2 separate regions of the Homo sapiens genome follow, and region 2 is linked to region 1. Evidence: fine-mapped expression QTL. A gene starts in region 1. The other region holds a variant in brackets. All regions are shown on one strand. Distances are from middle to middle.

Region 1 (10,125 bases):
TTTCAAAACAATGGTAGAGTTGCAAAATACAAAGAAAATCTTATCAGACTAAACATTTTCAGACTAAGTATTAAAAGTTATTCAGGAAACACAAGAGAATGTATTTATTCCGTAGTATCAACAATTATAGCATGGAAACACACAGAACCTCTATTAAACGTTATCTATTTCAAAACTCCTAAAATCTATTACTTGTCTTACACCAAAATGTGATATAGTACCACATCCTATAGAACATTAAATATAAGTAAATTTAAATGTCAAAGTAAATTCACAACCAATGAAATTAGAAGATTCACAAATATAAACTTAGTAATTAGGAAGCTAACTCTAGGCCAGACGCGGTGGCTCACGCCTGTAATCCCAACATTTTGGGAGGCCGAGGTGGGTGGATCACGAGGTCAGGAGATCGAGACCATCCTGGCTTACACAGTGAAACCCCGTCTTTACTAAAAATACAATACAAAAAATAAAAAATTAGCCGGACGTGGTGGTGGGCACCTTTGGTCCCAGCTACTCAGGAGGCTGAGGCAGGAGAATGGCGTGAACCTGGCAGGCGGAGCTTGCAGTGAGCGGAGATCTCGCCACTGCACTCCAGCCTGGGTGACAGAGTGAGACTCTGCCTCAAAAAAAAAAAAAAAAAAAAAGAGAAGAAAGCTAACTCTATCAAAGTTCAATTGTACGTAAGAATAGACACATTCAAAACAGGCAAGGCAGAATAGGTCAAAAATGTCTCTGAACACAGCAAACCCATCCCCAATCTAGACAGAAATATAAATGTAGATTCTGTTATTTCACTAACGATTTAATTTTCTTAAGTTACAGCCATCACACAAAGAAAAGTCTGCAGTCTATCTATCTGCCTATCTATACATATATGTATATATATATCTCTATACTGTTGCGAAAAAACATACTTTTTTTGCAACAGTAACTGCACCAAATTACTAGGCTCAATGTTGATTTAGAAAACAAATAACTAAAAAATGCTTTTTGCTGTTTTTCCAGAGGAATCCAATTTGATCATCCATTCGGACCTTAAACCTCAGAAATTCAAATGTGTAAAAAATGTCCATCAATGTAAACAAAAATGGCAAAATGTGAATTTCTGGAGCTGGGTAACAGTTAAAAGGCAGTTCATTACACTGTGCTATGTATCCTTATGTTTTTAAAAGTCTATTAAAATGTTACATTTTTCAAAATTGTTCAGGTGCATCAAGTGGTCTTTACAAAAATCTTTCATTCTAAAACCGTAGAGAGCATCCATTTATCAATAATGTACCTGACAGGACACACTGACTTGAAAGTAGTCTTCAAATCACACCAACAATTATTCTATCAACAGATAGATGTAAGGCCATATCTGACTGGAAGTTACTGAAGAAATAAATGTAATATAATTAAGTATATGTCTTCTTATGTTAAAATGTTATATAGTTGATAACTAAAACAAAAAAAAAAAACTTCATTCTTAGAATTGGAAGAGACAAACTTTCTAGTTCGGTGGTTTGCAAACTTTTTGAGGTACCTGGACAAAAGAGCCAGACAAGTCACCTTGTTTTATACATAGGAGATTATACACAAAATATGAGATGATGCTTTTAAAAATGATTTATCTACTTAAAAAAGGCTTTAAACCCATTCTGTCATTTCAACAGCTACATTCTACAGCTAATATGGTGGCATAGAAAAGATTAAATGACTTGGGATATATCATTCAATTAGTGGCAAAAGAACTCAGGACTCTTATTTTTCCAGTTCTTTCAAACAATGCACCACTTCAAATTAAGTTACAATTAAGAATAAAACTTTCCATTTTCTTGCCTGTAAAATACGGTTACTAGACAAGATCATCTCTAAGATTATTTTCCAGGTCTAAAATTCTGACTCCATGAATGCCAAGCTCAAACAGAAATCTACATTAAGGGAATGAATGTTCTTCAACACAGCAGAACCCTTCACACGCTTTCAATGACTTCAGAGACATGCCAGTCAAATACAGAAACAAGCTCACAGTAACTCAGTCATACCTTTTAGGTCCTTAAACATCTGTGCAACATCTTTTAATAGTTAATGCTATTAAGATGTGAAACAATGTTCTCAAAAGCCACTGAAATAATCCTGAAAGTTTTTTGGTTACTAGTTATTTTAAGAAAGGACACTGGCCTATGAAAAACACACAACTCACTGAAGATGTTCAAGTTACCGAATGCCTCAGAGAATTAAGTACATCATTTTCTTAAGTTTAAAATAAATGAATTGAGAGGAGCATAAAGCCTAGCTGGCATAATAGTTACGAAGTTTTAATTCCCACCTATTAAAGCCTGAAAGAGGTTGCTCTGAAATATGTTAATAACCCGTTCTATGGAACTTCTGAGCTGTCTGTCTTCAGTTTGGCTTAGTTTTGAACGATATTCCTCCAAAAGGTGCAATGCTCTCTGGGTATCTGAGAAGAAAAAGCAGAGCCTGATTAAAACTCTCTATTTACAAAAAAAGTATCACATACTAGTGCAAATAATTCTGCATGACATCTAAATAGTTCCGCAAATCCTTCAGGTCAATTGATGTCACTATGTTCATGTACACATATTCCTTAGAATGACCAAAAAATAAAAAAAAAAATTAAAGAAATACAAGAAAAATTTAAACATATATCACATTAGAAAACGGAGGAGAGTGAGCAGTTTGGAATAAATGTGTACTGGTAGTTTGCCAAAGTAAAAGATCAAAGTATTAGCAACAGTTTCAGATTACCTGATAATGCAAAAGCAGATTATCTACAATTTGTCATCATAATCCAAATTTTTAACATTTCAAAATACAAATTCTTAGTATCCCACAGTTGCTTACAGAATAGTGCTTAGTAAGAATGATAGAGTGAAATACTAAAACACCAATTCAGGGTTATTAAGGACATCTGTTGGGGGGGGGCTAACTGCCTCTCTTAATCACTAGAGAAATGTTAAGAAAGTTTAACAAACATTTTCGTGTTTCCATCTTCTGAAATGATATGAGGCTTAGATTCCCTAAGCAATAAAGCTAGGACCGTGCTGTCTCATCAAAGTTACACAAACGATTCTAAAACGGCAATCAAAAAACTGACACACGGAAAAGCAAGTGACATCGACAACAGAGTTACGGAATAAACTCTCACCTTGCTTCCGGACCGGCATTTTTCTCCAGAATCAGGAAGAGGGCACACACCTTTAAAACACACAACGGAAAGGAAAAAGGATAGAATCATGTTAAACTAGCATTTTCCCCTATCGAAATAGAAAACCCTCGCAGCCTATTTGAAAACCCCACGTTCCAAAGTTTTACCAAGTCAAAGAAAGAGTCTCAAAACGCAGCAGTTGTCTGTCAACGTGGAAAGCTTTTCCTTGGAGTGGGTACCCCTCCAAATTAAGAACAGACAGAAGTCGGCTTCCAAACTCTCCTCGAAAGCGTCCCCTCCCCAAAGAGCCTAGACCTGAGGCCGCCTCTTCCCCCGCACAAGTATCCACACTCCCCACCTGCTACTGGGTACGGGCGGGTGAAGCGCTCCGACCCTTGGCCCCTGAGCCAGCAGCGGCCGCAGAGCGCTGAGAGGGGACCAGCGGGACTGGCCGCCCGCCCTGCTCGGGCCCCCTCCTCTCGCTTGCCTTTCTCCTTGCTCGCTGCCTCCGGGCTGCTCCAGCGGGGGCCGGACAGGGCAGCGGCCGCTCTCCGCGACGCCCTCGCGCCCCGCATGCACACCTCCGCGGGCCCCCACACCTGCGGCGCCGCCACAAAGTTCCGGTGAGCGGCGTGCGCTCGGAACTGGGGTGCGCCCCGGCCAGACTCGGAGCAGCTCCCCAGCCCGGCCCCGCTCCACGTACCCCCGCCCCGCCCGGGGCCCGCGGAGCCGAGCGGAGGGGGCGAAGGGACGGGGGAGGAGCTCCCCTGGGCCGCCGCACCCCCGCGGCCTCGTCCTCCTTCTCGGCCGCGCCGCCTCCTCGCTCGCCGCGGCCCCCCGGCCCGCTCGCCCAGTTGCTGCCGCACGCCCCACCCCCGGAACCTCGCCTCCTTCCGCGCCCCCAACCGCTCTCCCCCGAAACTTTCCGCCAAGATGGCGGCCCCCGAGCTGGCCTGCCGCGCTCCCACGTGACCGCTTTCCCGGCGCTCTCAGCCAATGGGAAGTGAGGAGGCGGCTCGCGCCGAGCCCCGGGCTCCCCGCGCTGCTACCTTCGGGTTGGAAGGGGGAGGCGGGTCGGGGGAGGGCAGGGGAACGGAAGGGGTACCCGGGGAGCATCCTAAGGGAACCTCTTCGCTTAAAAGGGCGGCCGCTGAAGTGGCTCTGAGAACAAAGGAGTTAACACTCGGACTCCACAGGTGGCCCGGGGTGGCCCTGGAGGAGCCCGCCTTTACCTTGCCCTAGCCCACCGGCGCGTCCCGCAGTTCCGAACTAAACGCGCCAGGCCGGGAAGGCTCGGGCTGTCTGAAGAGAGGCGTGACCTCGCCTACACCAGATCCAAGGCGCACATACCGAGACACCCCTCAACCTCACTCAGCAGTGCCGTTTCCAACTCCGCGGCAGAGACAGCGCCTGGCGACCCCGGGGGTAGATCCCCACCGGGGAAAAGCCGCCTTAAGGAGGAGCCAACTGCACCTCCCAGGGGGCGGGGAGGGCGGGGCCTGGGAGAGGGAGAGGGAGGAGTTCGGGGAGGGGTGCCAACTCTGCATTGCCTTCCACTCCAGGCTGATTGTTAAGTTACTCTTCGTCCCTTAGTAATAGGCTTGGGGGGAGGGGTTTCATTACAGAAGGACATATGAAATAGAGACACTGGTTAACTTGGCAAGAGTTTGAGGGTTATAGTACAAGATTTTTAAGCCTAACTGATTAATTCCGAGTATGGTATACTTAAGGGTGGGCAGAGAAGGTTTGTTCATTCATTCGCTCATTCATTCATTCATTCATTTCCCTCAAGCCTGCGTCCCCGCCCGGTCAGCATCGCAGGTGTTACCCAAACTCTGACGGTCCCTTTAAGAACTCACCCGGAGTCGCGCCCTCCGAAGCTGAGCCGCCCTCGGCCAGCGCTGCAGGTTTGTTTCGTGCGCACCTCCGGGCGGAATTACCGGCCGGCTGGGACCCCGCTCCCGGTCTGAGCCACCCAGGTTATAGAAGGGGAATCTCGGGAAGCTTTCCAAGTCACTGCCCACGTCTTCGAACTTCCTCGGGGTGACGAGGACCTCCCTATTAGGAGGTCCAGAGAGAATTTGCCCAAAGTTACCCCGAGTGAGTGACAGAACTGGAAACCCGGAGATCCTGTCTTTCAAAACCGGAAGGCTCTTCCCAGTAAACCTGACGGCCTCTGACTGAGGCCGTATCCATTGGCTACCAAAGGGAAGGCCGAGGAACCTCGTATTGTAACCTTAACAGCTACTCAGAGGTATACTGACCACTGGTTTTACTTTTGGATTGCACCTTAGAATCCTAACTTACTGTAAGGACCCACCGACTTTAGAACCTATCTAGGACAAGGAACCGAGGTCCGGAAAAAGGGAAGCAACTTGTCCAAGGACATAGACGCTAATCAGTAACAGAGCAGCCGAGAACTCAGGTCTCCTAGCTCTAGTCCAGGGCTCTTTCTCTTGTGATTTTGGACAACTTGACAGAGAGGTATGTTGGTATGTTGGCAGCAGACCTCTGTGCTTTCCCGGATCAAGCATCCTGGGATCTTGAACAACAGTTAAAGCAACATTGCATAGAGAAAATGGGATAGAAGGGTCAAACGGTGCTGAAGGCAGAGGTGTCCTAACAGCCGGGAACTTAACAGAGGGACGGAATTTATTTAGTAGTGAAAGTGGCTCATGACAGGCATCATACTCTCAAGACTTCGCTGATGGACTGTGAATGGGATGGTTGCAGTAAGAAACCATTCTAACAATGGAATCTCTTCAGAATTCAGAAGAAACAGGGAGGGAAATTTGCCCTCTCCCTTGATAACATTTATTGTTCATATATGTTCACTTGCTAGGAAACGGGGATAGAAATAAATAAGATCCGAGTCCTGCTCTCAAGGATACACAGCCTTGTAGCAAGTACACAAAGGCCAATGCACCTTTTCCCAGGGGACACTGAGGAGTCAAAAACAAAATTTGTGTGAGTTCTCAATGTCATCCTAGCCTTCCCCTAAAAGCAAAAAGGAGGAAGGGGAGGAAAGAGGACGTGTCCTTTTTTCTTGTCATTCTGTGTGACAGCCCTATTTGGTTGTCAGCGGTGTACAAAAGCAGCAGTGAACCCAGCACTTGTTCTACCCTTAGCCTAAGGTGCCGGCAGCAAGTGCCTAGCAAATGAACATATATGAACAATGAATAAAGGCTCTTTACTCTTCATTCCTCCTTTCTACCCATCTTTATTAGTTACTTATTGCTGGATAAAAAAAAAGTTCCTCAAAGCTTAAGGGTTTAAAACTTATTAGCTTAGTAAGTTAAACAGCGATAAATATTATCTCAGTTTCTGTGTGTCAGGAATTCAGGAGCGGCATAGTTGGGTGGTTTTGGCTCAGGGCATTATGATGTTGCAGTCAAGAAGCCTGCCAGGGCTGCAGTCATCTGAAGGCTTCAGGGGGACTACGGGAGGCTCTTTCAGCATGGATCATTCACATAGCTAGTAAGTTGATGCTGGCTATTGGGCGGAGGCTTCAATTTCTCACCATGAAGACCTTTCTATAGGGCTGCTTGAGTGTCTTCATGACGTAGCGGCTGACGTCCAACAGAGCAAGTGATTCAAGATGGCGAGACAGAAGAAGCCACAATGCCTTTCATCACTTAGTCTCAAAAGTGACACTCTGTCATAGTCTGTTTGGGCTGCTATAACAAAATACCTTAGACTGGGTGATTTATAAACAACAGGAATGTATTACAGCTCTAGAGACTAAGTAGTCCAAGATCAAAACACCATCAGATGTGATCTAACAGTCATGAGAATAAAAATTAAAAAAAAAAAAATGGCCAGGCGCGGTGGCTCATGCCTGTAATATCCAGCACTTTGGGAGGCCAAGGCAGGTGGATCACGAGGTCAGGAGTTCAAGACCAGCCTGGCCAAGATTGTGAAACCCCGTCTCTACTAAAAATATAAAAATTAGCCAGGCATGGTAGCAGGCACCTGTAATCAACTATTCAGGAGGCTGAGACAGAGAATTGCTTGAATCCGGGAGGCGGAGGTTGCAGTGAGCCGAGATCGCGCCACTGCACTCCAGCCTGGGCGACAGAGCAAGACTCTGTCTTAAAAAAAAAAAAAAAAAAAAAAAAAAAAAAAAAAAAAAAAACACCAAGAGATTCAGTGTCTGGTAATAGCCCCATTCCTCATGAATGGAGCCTTCTTGCTACATCTTCCCATGGTGCAAGGGACTAACAAGCTCTATCTGGCATCTTTTATAAAGGCTCTAATCCCATTTAGAAGAGCTCCACTTTCAAGACCTAATCACCTCCCAAAAGCCTCATCTCTTAATATGATCACTTTGAAGGTGAAGATTTCAACGTATTAATTTAAGAAGGACACAAACATTCAGACCATAGCATACTCCATAATATCCGATCAGTTACTTAGATCAGCCTCAAGGATATGAATACCAGAAAGTAAGACTCACTGGAGGCCATCTTCTTGGAGCTGGCTACCACATCATCACAACATACAAAGCAATGACATCTGGATTTTTCTTTTCTTTTTTTTTTTTTTTAGACCGAGTCTTGCTCTGTTGCCAGGCTGGAGTGCAGTGGTACGATCTCGGCTCACTGCAACCTCTGCCTCCCGGGTTCAAGCTATTCTCCTGCCTCAGCCTCCTGGGTTGTTGGGACTACAGGCATGTGCCACCACGCCCAGCTAATTTTTTGTATTTTAGTAGTGACGGGGTTTCACCATGTTGGCCAGGATGGTCTCGATCTCCTGACCTCGTGATCCACCCGCCTCAGCCTCCCAAAGTGCTGGGATTACAGGTGTGAGCCACTGCACCCAGCCCTGACATCTGGATTTTTCTAAGCAACTTTTATTTCCTCAAAGTTTTCCTTACTTTGTGCAGTGAGCAGCTGCCATTGAATAGGACACAATATTGGATCTAATTTTCCAACTTCCTCATTAAATATATATATATATACACACACACTATATCTATCTATCTATCTATCATCTATCTATCTATCTATCTATCTATCTATCTATCTATCTATCTATATCTGTCCTATCTGTCTGTCTATCGATAGTTAGATAGACGAATAGAAGAAGTTACTTCAACAAAATACTAGCAGGTAAAGCTGTTCACTTTCCAGCTCCAAGTTAACTTGCCTTTTGAAGAGCTTAAAAGGCTTCGGAGTCAAAGACCATGGGGAAAGGCTCAGATTTCCCATTCTTTTATTGAAATGTCAGAGAGTCAATGTCAAAGATACTGTCTCTAAGTTCCAACCCTTCCCTTCCCAACCATCCTGCCCAAGCCACCTTTGCAGCTTCACATCTCTGTCTTTGTCTTCTCCTCCATCTAGGCCCCAGCTTATAAATCTATGAAGGTGTCCAGGTCCTGCCAGACTCCGCTGCATCTTTTGCTTTCACTCCAGCAGGGTAGCAGCATGCTGCCTGTGCCAAGGCAATCACTAAAAGGAAAGGATTTAATGCTGTCAAAAAAGCTTATGCCAGCTTAGGCTGCAGGAAGAGGAACAGTGTCAAGTATGTTGAAAGTGGACATATTGGTCAGACCTCCATGAGAGCCTAGGGGGCATTGCTTAGCAGCACGCTTTTAAAGGAATCTGAACAAACCAGCATGTGGAAAGAAGAGAGTAACCACAGCAATCAGGAAACAACTGTACAATCTAGGGCCATTTCATTGGAAAAACAGAAGTCTCCAGGGAGCTGCAGTCATCAAACAGGCTTATTCTGTGTACCCAGTGGGCAAGTACAGTCAATGGATGAAAATTCAACCAATGGACAAACACAGGAAGTTTTTCCTTAACATGAGTTGTCAGAAACTGTCCAAAATTCCAAAGAGCTGCCTCAAGGTAGTGGAAATTTTTTTTTTTTTTTAATCAGGAAGGTGCTGAATGAAGCCAGCAAGGATTCTGTGTCAGAGGGTGGTAGATACCCAGGACATAAGGTTGAACCACGTGACCTCTGAGACCACAGTTCTAAGCTGTTGAAACCTCAGTCCCTGCTGAATACTGAAATGGTATTAGCACCCTTTAGTCTACATCAAGAATTCGTTCTACCCAGTTTTGGTGGTACCAAGACTGATCTCTTTCTCATAGATAATTCTTAACAGAATAAAAGCTACAGGTTGAAACCAATTCCCTTTAAAATGTGGACAGTTGACCATCTCCATGATAGGTAGTTAGGCACTGAATTAATGCTTTTTAATGGAAGAGCCACCCTAAGATTCCTGGAGTGTGGTATAATGGAGTACTAAATCAGCATAGGACTAATAACTGCCTCCCGTGTAAACTGGTCTATCCGGAGAGTGGTATAGCCTCTCATACAGTGTTCAAAGGCAGATTTAACTCACTGCAGGTCCACAGCAACCGATAAGATAAACTCGTTGGTTATGGTCTCCCACTTTGCAAAGGAGAGCACAGAGGAAGAGGAAACTGAGATAACTTGGTTTAGGACCCCACAGCTGGCTGGAGCTGGGCTGAACATTAGTTCATTGTTTCTTCGATTAATCTATGCTGCTTTTTCTCTACTTGGCTCCTTTTCTAAATTAAACAAAACAAAACAAAAAACACTGGGCACAGAGTGGTGTATATGTGTGTGAGAGAGAGACAGAGATAGAGAAAGACTAAGCGAAAGAGAAAAGAGAGAGGCTGAGTGAGATTCAGATAAAATAAGGCACAAGTCATGGGCTAGTCTGTTGTACAGTGTACTTGTCATATATTTGAATGCCTTTAACAATGGAGACAGTTTTGATGGAAATAGGGCCTTGAAGAAATGCATATCCGCACCCTGGTGGTATGTTATAACTAAACGGGTTGGTTTTTTGTTTCGGAGTTTTTTGGGTTTCTTTTTAATGCAAAGGTATATATTTAAAATACCCTGTAGCTTCCTTCTCTCCTTCATTTCATTTCCTTAAGTATGAGAGAGGTTTTCTGGATGACGGGACATCCAAACTGGAAGTGCCCTCAGAT
Region 2 (10,125 bases), 120 kb before region 1:
ACAATAAAAATAAGCCAATTCTCTCTCCCCAAAAACCATGGAAGCGACAATTTAAAAAACAAGGAAACAAGATATACATATGGAAATTTCAAGTTTCACCTACAGTTCTTTAAAATATCTTTAATTAAAAAGTCTATATAATAAAGCTGTGCTCTTACAACTGAAAAAATTTTGCCTCTATACTGAATATAGCCTTCCAGTTTGGAAAAAAAGTGATTAAAATGATATGATTTTTATTCTCTTTTCTTTGTTCTCCCTTCAAAATCCTGCTATGGTACTTAGTTTGGCTAAAGCAATTAATTCTTAATATTGATATGCATCTTGTTTGTTTTCTTTCTATCTTACAAAATACTTTCCAACTGATTTCTTTCCAAATTTATAACCCTTTGATACATCAGATCATCCTACCAAGATTAGTCAGATTTATATACAGATAAATGAGGGTGGGATCTGTTTTAATTTAAATGCCAGTTTATTGCTCTTGAACGTGGCTGTTAAAAAAAAATTAACAAATAATTAAACACCAGGTTATAATCCCCAATTCTTTTTCTCAGAACAACAAAACAACACAAATTGTAAAGCAATCATTTGGTTCCACTCTGTCACAGCTGTAACTTCTTCACATTTCAAAGCTGCTCCAGTCAAGAAGTCAGAGTTTTGATTTCACAGATACTGAAAATACTGTTCAGAAATGCTACCAAATTGGGGCTTAAAGGAAAAAGAATGAATAGGAAGTGCTCCTGTTACGAAGTGAGGAGGGAAAATCTTTTAAATAAATGCCTGGAGGGGCAAGTTGCGTGTATAGGCTTCTATAAAATTCCACTGCTCCCAGGTGGCACTGCCAGTTGGTTTGTATTTGCATACGCCTGTTAAAATTACCACATCAGTTGGTTTAAAGTTTTCTTTAAAAGGTGGTAACTGTAGGCTACTGTTCTCTACATAGTCTGAACAACTATTTTTACCTTTATCAAAATTCTAAACTTTGCTATAAAAATGGAGGGCTGGAAATGTTATCTAAATAATAGTGCCAGGAAGTACAAGGAATAATTTAAGAAAATTTATTTAAAGAGACTGATACTAAGTAAAATTTTCATGATAAAAATTTAAGTTCTTCAGATATGTAAGAGTATAAATGCTTCACAATTTTTTCACAGAAGGATCTGAATTACTTCTGAAATTCACAACTTTACAAAATCTGGTAACATAGACTTGCTAGTTTTTAAGCCATAGTGTTACATAAAAATGGCTTGGGAAATTTACAGTGATCCAACAATATTTAGAAGTTCCAAACTTCCACTTCGTCAACAGCAGATTAAATAAAAATTAACACCTGTATAACATCTGTTTATTCATTCAACAAATATTTATCAAGTGCATTCTCCATGCGAGGCTCTGGGGATACCAAGGGAAAAAACCACACACCCTGTAGCATCAGCTCTTGTGAAACTTACAGTTTAGTGGCTGACATTAAACAAAATCATTATCCAAATGACTACTGAATTAGAGTCGTGATAAGAGGTATGAAGTACAATTCTCATGCAAACAAACATTACTTGAAAATACAGGAGAAAAATGTTGCTCAGGCTGACTTGCCCTGATCCCATAAGCATGGTTCAGTCACTTTTCAGCACTGTTATTAACACATTATTTTAAAGGTTAACTTTAAAACTTCTCTGAATATATTTAGAATATATAAATTATAGCCTGTGAAACTTCTTTTTGCCTATCTATCCTTGACAGAAACGCCATCTAAACAATCAAGACACTATACAGAAGCTACAAAGAAGAATAAAACACATTTCCTAACTATAAAGACCTTATATCATAAATTTCAAATGTCTTCAAGCTAAGCCAATCTAATCTACATTAAGACACCAATTTTATAGTTTTTAATAGACTTTATATATTTTTTTAGAGCAGTTTTAGTTCCCATATGCCCCCTGCTCACACACATAAACTATCCATAATCAACACCCCTGCATTTCTAATGTACATTTGTTACAATCAATGAGCCCACACTGCCACATCACAAAGTCCATAATTTACATGAGAGTTGACTGTGGGGGCTGGATATTCCATGGGTTTTGACATGTGTTTAATGACGTTTCCGCCATTATAGTATCATACAGAATGGCTTTACTGTCCTAAAAATCCTCTGTGCTCTATTATTTATCCCTCTCACCTAACCCCTGGCAACCACTGATCTTTTTATTGTTTCCATAGTTTTGCCTTTTCCAGAACGTCATCTAGTTGGAAACAAGGGTGTGTATCCTTTTCAGGTTGGCTTCTTTCACCTGGTAATATTCATTTAAGGTTCCTCCATGTCTTTTCATGGCTTGATAGCTCATTTCTTTTAGTGCTGGGTGATATTCCATTGTCTGAATGCACCACACTTTATCCATGCACACACTGAGGAATATGTTGGTTGCTTCTAGGTTTTGGCAATTATGAACACAGCTGTTATAAACATCTCTGTACAGGTTTTTGGGTGGATGTAAGCTTTCAATTCATTTGGGCAAATACCAAGGAGTACAACTGCTGGATCGTATGGTCAATTTTGTAATTTAAAAAAGCTTATATAACCATTGTAACCAACTACTTTTGGTTTAATCTTCATCTCTATGCTTTTCTAGAGTGTCCTATTGAACAAATGATATAAATTTTATTTTTATTTTTTATATTATTTTTTATTTATTTTTATTTATTGTACAAATGATAAAAATGTGTTGAAACAGTGTTTAAGAACCAATTTTTGAGTCAGTACATGTAGGTGCACTGTAAAAGTTTCCAGAAAAACAGAAACATAAAATAGATCCTACAATATTTTTTGTGTCAAAGGGGGAACAATTGATTTCCAAGTCTGAGTCATCATATTAATTTCGCAAAGTTAGTAGCCTTTTGAGTAGAAAATTAAGAAACAAATGTGTCTGCCAAGGGTCAGCATCTCACAGCCAGTACAACAGCGTTTCCATCCAAACTGTGAATGTTTGGGGAGTCAATACCAAAGGAGACTATTTCCACCAATTTCTCTGGAAAATAACCTATCAATTAGAGTCAGTATTTTCAAAGCAGTTTAAGAAGATTGTCTACCTACCCTATACGTAGTCTACTTTTTAGTACAAAAGCACTACACTAATGAATATGAACAATTCCATTCCTTGGAGATGAAGAAAAAATATTTTATCAAAACACAATTATCATTACACATGAGACAAAATGAATGTGGTATGTACCGATAACACGGTTAGGTCAATCAATCTAGGATGGTCCAAGATGGAGATGTCTTGGTGTGAATTTCAGACCTGTTGCCTGGTGGGAATAGTCAGAAAATAAATGGTTATAACAGAGTGACCCCATATGCCTCTATTTACTTGGGAAGTCTGTATTTATGCCTGTTGTCTCACTTTAATTATTAATGATTCCCTCTTTTCATTAAAGTATCCTAGTTTGGTCTGAGTTATATAGTTATCCCAGTTTTGAGGAAATTGAATTCTCTTCTCTCCCTACCTCATTTCCTTGTGTGTATTTCTTCTCAGAGGGCAAGTAAGAATCATCAGTTAGAGAACTATTACAATGCTAAATAAAGTGTGATGCGCGCTTCACAGAAAGTCTAAGGGAAAAGACAGACAAACACACCTGCTTGGGCCCTCCTTAGCACAAGTTCGTATGTCCCTGTCTCTTCACTCATTCAACAAATATTTTCTGGTTATCTACAGTGTGCCAGCCACTGTCACAGAAACTGAGGATACAACAATAAACATAACAGAAAAATCCCACCCACATGGAGCTGACAGTCAAGTAAAAAGACAGTAAAAAATGTATAATAAAGAATCAGGTAAGAAGACAGAGTAATGTCTGGAGTGAAGGGGTGCTACCTTAGAGGAAGCAAAAAATATTAACGAGAGAAGTTAGATGTCTACTGCTGTAGTTCAGGCAACATATTATTGAATCAGTAGTTGCAGAAGTGTTGAAAAGTGGCCAAATCATAAATATATCTTGAATAAAAAGCCAACAGGATTTGGCATCAGACTGGATACGGAGCAAAGAAAAAAGGAATAAAAGATAATTTTAAGGGTTTTTGTCTTCAGCATCTTAGTGAATGGCATACTGAATAAAGAAGATTGAGACCAATAAAACTAGAAATTCTCTTTTTAATATGTTACCTTTCAGATGCTTAACCGAAGTGGAGATACTGAGTAGAAAGTTAGATATAAAAGTCTAATGTACAGGGATTAACTCTGGAATAAAGAGAAATACTGATGGTATTTAAGGGCATAGGACTAGATGCGATCACCTGAAATGTGAGTATAAAAAGAGAGTTCAAAGACTGAGCCCTGAGACATTTGAACATTTAGCAGTAGGAAAAAGGAGGATACTATAAAGGAAAATGAGGCTGGTAGAATATTAAAAGAGCAGTACTATCCACGAGTCAAAGGAGAAAAAAGAATTTAGAGGAGGGAGTAATCAATTGTGTTAACAGTTGTTGTAGGGTCAAGTAAAATGAACACTGAGAACTGGCCACTGGATTTGATAATCTACACTCACACAACGAGGGTTTTTTGGATGGTTGTTTTAATGAAAGATATTATAGCAGGTGTACATCCTGA[T/C]AGGACTTATAGAGGCAAGTCTAGGGGCAGTACAGAGGCAAGACAGATGATGCAGTGAAGAGAGAAAGGGATTTCAGAAGTTCTTGAACAACCAAAGGGACTACGATCTAGTACAGAAGTGAATATGGGTAAGCTTTAGGCACACAGTTCATTTATTTTAGCAGGCTGGAACACAAAGCAAGATTATTTATTTGAGAATAAGACCAGGAATCAGGTATTGGAAGTTTAACGTGCAGTCTGCGAGTTGGTATAGAGAAGGCAGAGCTGCAATCCGGATGGTCTGGACTTTCTGTGGTGACAGGCTAAAAGGGATTTAGGATCTAAAAATAGTCCTCATGATATGTTTGGGGGATGCTTAGGGGAGCTTGGTACCAAGTGGATAATCACTTAAATTTAGTCATCTACACGTGACTGGTTTTCACCAATTTGTAGAAGGGAGTGCTAGGAGGGGAGGAAAGGTCAAAAAACTGGTAGTCTCATCAAGAATTTCAAAGGCTCTTTGGGGCACCTCCCTTAAATCCTGTAATTAAAGGTGTTGAGATCTCTGGTTCTTAAAAAAAGTGGATGGCTTGTACTTACAAATTAACTTAATCAGTCAACAATATTTACTGAATGTTTGAATGTACTGCGCTATCCTAGGTGCAATAATTCCTAATAATCTATATCTGAATTTGTTCATATACTATTAGAGTTAAATGATATAAAAATAAGCTAACAGGGGCACCTAACTCTAATGTAGCACTTACTCTGTGTCAGATGCTGTCCTAAGTACTTTATTAATATATACATTAAATTATTTGGTAGAAGTGACTCAATGACACTGATACTGTTATTCTCTCTATTGGACAATATATCCAATGCATAGCTCTAAAAATTAAATCCTCTATAACTCAGAAGGCATCTGTTTCAGACAAACAATATTTTTTAAAGTGTACAAATTAGCCTAAATATTTTTCCACACAGGCACTTGAACAATGTTTTCCTATATTTTTGACTTAGGACAGGGTTTTTCCTCTAAGCAGATTATTCAACTCAGCTAATATTTACTCTTTAAGAAAACTTTATTATTCTATTTCAATTCTGACAAGTTTTCATGTCTGTTCCATATTCCTAAGAATACAGCTTTGCTGCTCTCAGCTTAATTTGGCATGTTGTGTTTTTTTTTTGGGGGGGGGGGGGCTTTTTGAGTATTTATAGTGCTCTATATGTTGAGATTTTCAAGTAGTCCAAAATGTATGAATAGCTGCTATACACACATTCAAAATGACTGAACACTTCACAGTTATTTAAAGTTCATATGATTACTACTGACATTAATAAACGTCGATATCACTAAGTAAATAAAACTTTTCACCTAGGCGTTAATCAAGTAAAGTCTAGCAGCACTGTGCTGGAGTTCTATAAAACCCTGCTGAATATAAAAACTGGTCCCAGATTGGAACAGGACTGTGTATGCTAAGTAGGACGGGGCCGATTATTGAGTGACCCTCAACACAAGAATAGGAGGGACGCTGAGGGTGCGGAACCAAGGAGGGCTTCGCAATGCATAGAGAACTTTTTCTATACTAATCGTTTGAAATTAAGGACAAAAACACTATGAAGCCTCAAACTGAAAAAGTTTCACCAATGTAATTCATAAGAAACTCATTTTTATTTAACATTAAAAAATAAAACAACCTCTCAAAAAACCCACAATGTAAAATGAGATACAATGAAATGATAAAACTGAGAGACAGTGTGTAAGCTATTTGGTTATCACTACTGAGTGGGGACTGAAAGGGGTGAGGAAATCAGGGGAATCGGGGCAGTGTGACTGGAGGATAGTATGAAGAATGGAGGGGAAGAAAAGGCAGTGGAAAAGGAGATGGGCTGCTGTGAAAAACCAAAGACACTTGTGAGGGAAGAGAGAAGATCCAATCAATACAGGTACTGAAGAGGTATTAGATTAGGTGTCATATTTTGGAAGGCCAGGAGATAACATTTGAGGTGAATGGAATAAAAATTAATTAATTCTATAAGCATTTATTAACACCAACTACATGCCAAACCCTAACTGAGAAGCTAGGTGTCTTGCAAAAGTTTATAACCACTCAGTTTCCTTATCATTCAAAAAACATTAATGACTTCCTCCTGAGTTCCAGTATCATAGTAGAAAATGGCACATAATCTTAGTTATGAACATGAATACCTCCAGCAGACAAGCAATTTAAATGAATCTGTAAAATAAGTACAGGTTCTTTTTATGTATTGTGTATATTTGGGGGGATATTAAATCAGATACTTTTCATACTGTATTTGGGGGGGATACTAAACCAGATAGTTTTCATACTAATAGAACTTGATTTATAACAACTCTCCAATCTGCAAAAAGTATCATGTGGCTTAGTCATATGGAATTAGATTCAAAGTTAATCTTTCTGTCAAATCTTAGAGTATTTTTGACATCAGTGAAATAAGAGACCTCTGTTATTTACCAATCGCAGTACAAAACACTATGACCTTATTATATTCATAGGTATATATTATATGCTCTAAGTATGAAATTTCAATCTACGTTGTTTCTAACAATAAATCCCTTAGTGCTGCAAAAGAAAGCTGCCAGCCATGAGTCAGTAAGTGCAATTTAAAAAAGTATTCTAGTATCAAGTAAGATCCAATTATATCTCAAGTTATTTTTCAGTCCCATTATATTTTAACTTGTCAAATCAACTCCAGTAAGTTATAAAAAAATTAAGATATATAAACTATCCAATGTATCAGTTACAAAAATGTATAAAATGAAAAACAAAATGTTGGTACTCCAGTGCAAGAAAAACAGAAGCTAAAACCTCTACCCTAATACTCCTATTTCTAGAAATAAAATAGAAAGGTAATGAAAAAGACAAGATGAGAATCAGGAAAGAGGTCTGAAAGAAATAAAAACTATTAATAACTCATATACTAGCATACAGGAATGCTCTGAACCAAACTGGGTGGGGGCTGTCATGTAAAATGGCTTTGCAGAGCTGACTGCGAACAGGGGTCATGACTCTCTTCTGGCGCAATCACAGCAACGTTCTGCTCCTACTCCCAAGCGGCTATAACGTAACTCTGTGGTTTCAACACTTTATACATGAACTACTTTTCCTGTCTTTTCATTTGCCTGCTTTTAATAAACCGAGTGACAGATATATCAATGCTAGTGTTATCTGTGCATACATATATAGAAGGGTGTGCATTTACATAAACCATATATATATATAAAAAGTTCTAAAGATATCTGTCTTGTTGACAATGGAAAATATCATCTAGTATTAATCTACAATGAATAACATTGTCAACCTTTAGTCTTTGCATCCTTTCGTGATATATGTAATTGCAGTCAAAATAAGGTTAGTAAAATTCTTGGGGCAGTATTCAATTTAAGAGTTAAATCAATCGTTGCCCATTCAATAAGTTTTGATTGTAACTTAACCTCAATGCCTACATAATGACTCCCCCTTCCTAGGTAATTCCATTTCTCCCAAATATTTGAGAAAAGTAAGTAGAATTTCTTACTTAAGAAAGCTGATGTTATTTTAAATCAACACCATTAAAAGACAATTCTAGTAACCAAAAACAGTAAAGAAATTTATAAAAAACATATAAAGAAATATAGAACTGTTGACAGTTATAGTTTATATTTATTGAGCTGCTTCTATTATTTTCTTTAAAAGACAGCTTTAAGGGAATTTATTTTAAAAGGTCCTAAGGAATGTGTATGTATGTATTTTCCTAATTTAAATATCACTGATGTCAGAGGACAAATGCATTCTCAACTTGTTTTTAGACCATTTCTCGTCCTTTTATTTTTACTAAAGTTGAACTGACTGCTTAAAAATATTTAGAAATATGAATATTTCCTCAAACCACCCTTGTAGCAAACAATAGGTATTTCAAACAATTATTAATTTTTCTTTATTTTTCCTCCCATAGACAATAGCTCATTTCCTCAAAAAGTGGTGTTATGTGATTTTTTTTAATTTTGAGAGACTTTTAGTATTTGCTCATCTCTTTAAATTGTGATTTGACTATGTGAAAAAATATTCCATGACTGTGTAATTGCACAAGTTCACTTAATTTCAAATTAAGCTAGATAAATAATATTTACAAAAAACGATTCATTAAATCCCTTGAATAAGCCATAATATAGCTAAGATGTCAGTATATATAATACTAGCCAATTATATTAAATTGAATCTATTTTCAAAACACTGAAAAATGAAAATATTTCAAAGTATCTTCTGTTTCTTTACTGTAACAGTCTCCCTAAGGTTATCTAATAACATACAAAAACTAAACAAATCAGCATTTTCTTTGGTCAGACATCATACTCTACAGCATTTAGCACAGTCTAAAAAGGAGATGAGCATTATTAATTCATATTTTATGTATCAATGGGCTTATATTTTTAGAAAAGTCATTCAATTGAATCTGAGGCTATTTTGTTTGGTATTACATAAGAGCATAAGGAAAAATATTTCTTGTTCCCCCTTTTGTGCTAAAGACCTACACGGATGGACAGAAAACATACATTTCTACACATCCAAGGTTTCAAGGCTATTCTTTAAATAAAAAATCTATATTAAGACATTTTTACAGAGCAAACGTAAACAGAAATAGATTGAAAATAATTTCAACAAGTGGTATGTTACCTGGGTGGAGCTGGTGGCTACCGAGATGCAGTCAATAAAGCTGTGTCTTCGAGTGAAAAATGCAACTATCTGCTGCCAGCGTGAAGGTTCTGGCTCAGCTTGCAGTTCATCTGACGAGCCCTTTTTTGCCCAGTGTTTCTGCTTTGGGCCTGCTGAGCCATGGCTAGAGCTAGTATTGCCTCCTCGACTGCCGCGAGAGTATAGAAGTGTGTTGTTTCCGAAAATGTAATTCATCTCTGCAGCCCTGCAGGTGGTTGCCAAGCAGGCTTACTTCTCTACCAGCTGCTGAGTGGTGAATGATCGGTAAAAACTGCAGCTACAATTACAGCAGCATCACTTGTAGATCAGTGAAAATAAAAACCTTGAGAAATGATGCTCATTTTCTCAGTGATTTCTTCCTATGAAAGAGCTCGTATCTTCCCTCTGTACCTGTTAGCTGTATGATGGCTGAGTTTATTTTTGCAGACAAAAAAGACGACATAAGGTGGATTTCTTTCTCATGATTATTTTTTCACCAGCGTCTGCAGGAACCAAAAGCTGTTCTTTTGTTAGCTGATAACTAGATGGATTGAAATCCAGGAAGTGAGGTCGATTAGCAGGTAAAGAAGGATGCTATAAACACTGGACTACCAAGACCCTGTGGGGCTGCCTGATTTAATGCACTGCGTGGAAAAACCCTGGATTACCAAGTTTCAACCACAGTCTGTAGTAAAATCCAATGGCACCTTCACTGCTTATATAAATTATAAATATGAACTGAATTAAAACATATAAGAGGATTCTCTCTGCAAATAGTTCTGACTGTTAAAATGATTTCACTAAAAGAATCTTTGTCATTCATATCC

What was found. PIP is the estimated chance that this variant, and not a neighbour inherited with it, causes the effect.
Region 2: its variant is fine-mapped to the expression of DLG1 in skeletal muscle (GTEx, PIP above 0.99).

What each region holds. Positions count from the first base shown.
Region 1 is chr3:197,294,032-197,304,156 of GRCh38, forward strand. DLG1 (discs large MAGUK scaffold protein 1) reads right to left here and starts at 4,581. Exons shown (of 25, transcript NM_001366207.1): 1 at 4,505-4,581; 2 at 3,155-3,204; 3 at 2,315-2,446. The coding sequence starts at 3,173. It overlaps DLG1-AS1 (DLG1 antisense RNA 1), which reads left to right and starts at 4,216. Exons shown (of 3, transcript NR_038289.1): 1 at 4,216-4,579; 2 at 4,947-5,061; 3 at 8,497-9,720. RefSeq lists silencers at 3,508-4,137, 4,628-4,757.
Region 2 is chr3:197,174,295-197,184,419 of GRCh38, forward strand. All of the region lies in intron 5 of DLG1 (discs large MAGUK scaffold protein 1), which reads right to left. Among named protein-coding and RNA genes, the nearest start is that of MIR4797, 110 kb to the right of the region's middle. The variant T/C (reference allele first, on the strand shown) is at 4,608.